Regions from separate parts of the Homo sapiens genome. Here region 2 is linked to region 1. The links come from fine-mapping of genetic effects on gene expression. Tissue or cell type: nasal epithelium. Region 1 holds a variant in brackets; the other region holds the start of a gene. All regions are shown on one strand. Distances are from middle to middle.

The links. PIP is the estimated chance that this variant, and not a neighbour inherited with it, causes the effect.
Region 2: it holds the start of VAV3, and the variant in region 1 is fine-mapped to the expression of VAV3 in nasal epithelium (TOPMed, PIP above 0.99).

What each region holds. Positions count from the first base shown.
Region 1 is chr1:107,692,016-107,694,515 of GRCh38, forward strand. All of the region lies in intron 17 of VAV3 (vav guanine nucleotide exchange factor 3), which reads right to left. Among named protein-coding and RNA genes, the nearest start is that of MIR7852, 200 kb to the right of the region's middle. The variant G/T (reference allele first, on the strand shown) is at 1,082.
Region 2 is chr1:107,964,188-107,966,815 of GRCh38, forward strand. VAV3 (vav guanine nucleotide exchange factor 3) reads right to left here and starts at 993. Exons shown (of 27, transcript NM_006113.5): 1 at 479-993. The coding sequence starts at 682. VAV3-AS1 (VAV3 antisense RNA 1) reads left to right here and starts at 256. Exons shown (of 3, transcript NR_046653.1): 1 at 256-317. RefSeq lists enhancers at 4-133, 1,480-1,774, 1,710-1,779.

The DNA of each region.
Region 1 (2,500 bases):
CTTATCTGAAGTTCTATTCAGACTAAACACATCAATGTCCAGTAAGACTGCCTATCTCAACAGGGGCCACAGAAAAGTAATTACCAGTACAGTTTTTGAAGGTACCCTATCATCGTGACTAAAGTGCTATTTCTGTGAGACATTACAACTAAAAAATGCTTGGACTGATCAAATTTTGGAGAAAGTTCACTTTCACAAATGCTATGTTCACTACTCAGATATACAGCAATGTTTTAAAAAGAAAATAAAGCAAACCATAAACTATAAATAATACTTAGAAAGAGGCTTTGATTTCAAGTCTTTTCAGGGGCTCTAATAGGAATACAACCATATAATAGATTCCAATTCACATTAATAATTATTAATGTACCATTAAACTGACCCAAATAGATGGAAGGAATAATAACTACTCAAGTATAAAATTGTCTTTATGAGTTTTAAGTAATATTATGCAGAACTAAAGTCATTTTTGGTTATGAAATCAATGGTCAATCTTCAGCTCACGTAAAAGTACTGTGATAAAATGCCTAGCAGTAGAAGGCTGAAATAAAATTGTATCCTGAAAGCTTATCTTTTATGTTAAAATGTAAAATATGATTTATAAAGGAGCCCGGTTCAGATACCAATGTGGGTGCAGGTTCTAGGTAGCAGTCTCTCAGTTTTAAACCACTAGGATACCACAGCAACGTCCTTCCAATTAGGAGTGGCTATAGCAGCAGCAGGAGCAGCAGCTGGCCTAGATAAAAGTGCAATTAAACAGATAAGCAAATGGGGATCTGCTTCAGTTAAATATTAGGGCAGCTGAGGCTTGCATTCTCACTAAAGGAAAAGATGCATTATACCAAAGTCGTTTGCTCCAACAGTATTTCCCTTCCAATGTTACTTTGTTTAAACTGAGAGGATGCAAAGCAAGCTATACTGGTCAATGTCAGAGTAAGAAGTGGAGACCAAAGGGGCTTAGTCATGTAGTGTAGTGGGGGGAAAAGCAAATGTCCATAAAGATTGCTGTCTGGGATTAGACCTTCGCGGTGGTGTACTGTGAGAAGGAAACGACACCCTAAAATTACATTAGCTTTGCAGT[G/T]ACTCGTTCAGAGAAGCTTGCATAGTGGAGTTCATACCTATTCATTATTAACGTTGGAAAGTTTTGGCATGCACTTCAGAGCTCCTGTATGTGTTGATCATTGAGGTTGCCATAGTGAATGTGAAGAAGTCAACTCAAGTTCAGGGAAAAGGAGAGTGGAACTGCCTGCCCTTTATATCCATGCACATCCTCAAATGTTAAGACATAAACTAATCATCCAACATTCAAATTTGTTTCCAAGTTGCATAGTTTGTCTTATTAACAAAATAAACTTAACACATCTTTTTTTCATACTTCAAATGCACTTGAGTTAATAATCTGTCATAATCACATATTAATACAAATGAGGTGCTTCATTCAGAAATGCACTGCATTTTTGTCAAGTAATTATCATTTCCAGGGTGAATGAAGACTAGATTAATATAAGGGATATAGAGCATGAAATATAGAAGGTTTTCCAACCCAAGGAAGACAACATCCAAAAAGGGCTAACTTGAACAAAAAGAAGTGTTAAGAGATACTTCAAATGCTTAATAATATTTAGCCACATCCTATAACATCATTAAAAATTATATTCTGGTTGAAATAGTCCTATTATGGGAAAAAGCAACAACAACATGATATTAAGTGCCACTCCTCTGAACTTGGTACTAAGGGGTGGACACAAAAGATGAGAAACATATTCCGAACAGCAAAGGAGCATATAATCTAACAGGGGTAGAGACAGACACCAAATAGTCCATGTGTTTCATTACATTGCCCAGCTTCCCTTGCAGTTAGGTTGAAGCCATGTGACTAGTTTCAGCCAATGGACTTGATGAAAAATGGCACTGCTTACTTCCAGGCTATGGGTCTGTAAGTCAGCAACCCTAGAACCCATGTGTCAAGCTGGCAAAGTCACAAGATCAAACTGATCTGGGTTCCCTGATTAGAAGGGAGCTACTCTGAAGGGCCACTGAACTCACAGTAAACAGTGCATGTGTGAGAAATAAACTTTTATATCTTAAAGCCAATGGGACCTGGGGGTTTGTTAGTTACCACAGAACAGCCTAACCTTGGCAAATGCATAAAGCCTACATAGAAATAATTAGAGAACAATTTAATTCAGGCTACCATTGGATGGTCAAGGTACGGTTAATGATTGGCAAAGAGTTTGGACAGAAAGCAATGAAAGGGTGGTCCTTGGAACTGTTCGGAGAAAAGGGAGCATGTTTCAGGCAGAGGAAATAGTAAGAGCCAAGTGAGAACTCTAACAATTGGATCGACTGGATCAGGCAGTAGATTTTTTCAGAAAGGGAGGCATTTTTGTCATCAAGCATTCTGTGAATTGCTTCATTTTCTTGCTACTTATTAATCTAACCCAGGTGTCTCCTCTCAAAGGCCTAACAATCGATGCTTAGGCCATGAGCCTTTCCTTGC
Region 2 (2,628 bases), 270 kb after region 1:
AACGCCCTTCACTTCCTCGAGTCCTCATGTATGTCATGGTTCCTCTTTTAGGAAAACATGAGTACAAGACGCAAAGCAAAAGAAGAGACTAAAGGCAAATTACCCCATCACCTCGTTTCGTCCCTCCCCTTCGTTATTATAGAAGAGCTTGATCAAATTCCCTTTGTCGCGCCACACACACGCAGAGTAGGTGAAGGGCACCCTAAGACAACTTATTTCTTTCCCGCCTCACAGAAAGCCTTTACGAAATCCTCACACCATCTCCGGACGCAAAGCTTTCGCATTCAGCTTGAGGAGCTAAACCATTTCAAGCCAAGGTAGGAAACGCCAAAGTGGTGCCGAAGTGGTCCCAAAGCAGAAGGCTGGGAAGCAGGGCAAGCTCAGCGCACCTAGACGTTTGCATTTACACAAAGAAATTAGCCGCATGATTAATGGGAGCTGCCGGCTGGAGGCGGGGCGCCCGTGCCGGCCTCCTCACCTGGGACATCTGCGGCCTCAGGTTGATCTCCTTCAGGTTGATGGAGTGCGCCCGGAGGTTGTTAAGCAGCTGGCAGAGCAGGACTCCATCGCGGAGGGTCTGCGCAAGGTCGAACACCTGAGCCGAGTCCCAGGTCACCCGGTGGTTGGTGGGCAGCACCTTGCAATGGATGAGCCACTGCGCGCACTGCTTCCACGGCTCCATGCCCGACGGCTCCGGGACGCGGCTGGGCCGGGGCGGGCGGCAAGGATGCGGCCGCCGCCGCCGCCGCCGCGGTTCCTCCGCGCCCCGCCGACGCCAACAGCCGCCGGCCCTTTCCCCGCGCGGGATCGAGGGAGCAGGAGCCGCGGCTGACGGGTCGCGGGCGCCGCGCTAGGCTCGGCTCCGGTCCCGGCCCGGGTGCGCCGCGACCCGGCCGCCGCTGCAGCGAGTCCCGCGCGCTCTCCGTGCGCCCCGGCCGGCTCGGCGGCGGCTGCCGCGCACAGGCTTCCGACTCCAGCGCCCGGCCCGCCACTGAGCATGCCCAGCACGCCGGCCGGTCTCGCTGCGGTCCGCAAGTCCCCAGACGCGCGGGTGGGAGCGCGCCGGCGGCCGGGGCTGGGGTCTGTGGCCGAGGGCGGGGCGCGGGGGAGGGGCCGGCGGAGGGGGGCGGCGGCCAGAAAGGGGATCCCGCGCCCCCGCCTGCAGCCTTGCGGGGCTCACGCAGCCCCCGGCGTCCTGGGGTCTTCTCTCGGGGCGGCTTCCCGGCTTTGCGGGGAGTGTGGCTGAATACTGTAATACGATGGGGTCCCCCAGGACCCCCTAAACAACAAATGCTCAAAGGAGCGACGGATTAATTGGGGCACCCAGACTCCCCAGAGCAATGAAAAAAGTGCCTAGAGCATCAGTAGAGCACGGCGCTGAAAGTTTTAGAGATCGTCGCCCCCTCGCCCCTTGCAGCTCTATCCCCTCCATTCTCTATAGCTGATTCCTCAGCCTATTCCTCCTAGTTGCCCCTAGTGGTGTTTTGGCACCCTCAAAGTGAGTGAGAGTGCGTGTGTGGAGACGCCTGCGGAAACCGCCCCGATCCCTGAGCCTATTTCCTCGCGAGGTGATTTTCACTTGGAGCTGGTTTGCCCCTGCACTGTCAGGCTCGGAACTGTTTGCCGTTGCTGTTCTGGCCCTTTTGCTGACCCCACAAAAACCTGCTTGAGAAAGGCCTGTGCCACGGTGCTAGACTGCGCATGCGTCGGCGACTGGCGGCCGGGTTTGAGAGCAAAGCGCGTTAGCCCTGGGCAGCTCCTGCCGGGCTGTTCTGGGATCCTTAGTGAAAGTTGGAACTTGACCCCAGAACTTTTGCGCAGTGCACAAGCAGTGCATTCGTGTTTCTTAAGTAAATCTTTTGGAGACTCTAAACCCTACCCCTTTTACTCCCACTGCACACTGCCCCTCAAAACCACAATTAATGTTTAAATTATTTGTGGCAAGATATTGCCACAGTGAATTATTGCTGTTCGATAGGAATGTGGTCCTTCGTCACCCTTTTGAGATGCATTCACTTAAAATTAGAAAATAGGCCGGGCGCGGTGGCTCACGCCTGTAATCCCAGCACTTTGGGAGGCCGAGGCGGGCGGATCACGAGGTCAGGAGATCGAGACCATCCTGGCTAACACGGTGAAAACCCGTCTCTACTAAAAATACAAAAAATTGGCCGGGCGTGGTGGCACGCACCTGTAGTCCCAGCTGCTCGGGAGGCTGAGGTAGGAGAATCGCTTGAACCCATGAGGCGGAGGTTGCGGTGAGCTGAGATCCAGCCACTGCACTCCAGCCTGGACGACAGAGCCAGACTCTGTCTCAAAAAACAAACAAACAAACAAACAAAAAGATGGGAGTTTGGATAATTTAATTGTATTATATTTCTGTAGCCCAAATTTTTTATTACGAACCATGCTTTATAAGCAGGCCAAAATATTATTTTTAAAAGAATGATCTGTTCAGGATAGTGATTGCGTCCTTTTTCGTTTGGCTGTGACAAGGATAGCACACTGTTTACACTCAGCGCTGAACAATAAATCAGCCTGAGGATTTCCTTTCCTCACACGCATCCTTCCCTAGCAATTTCCTCTTGTGTTCAATGCGGATTCCATCAATAGCACGACATTTTCTAGGCC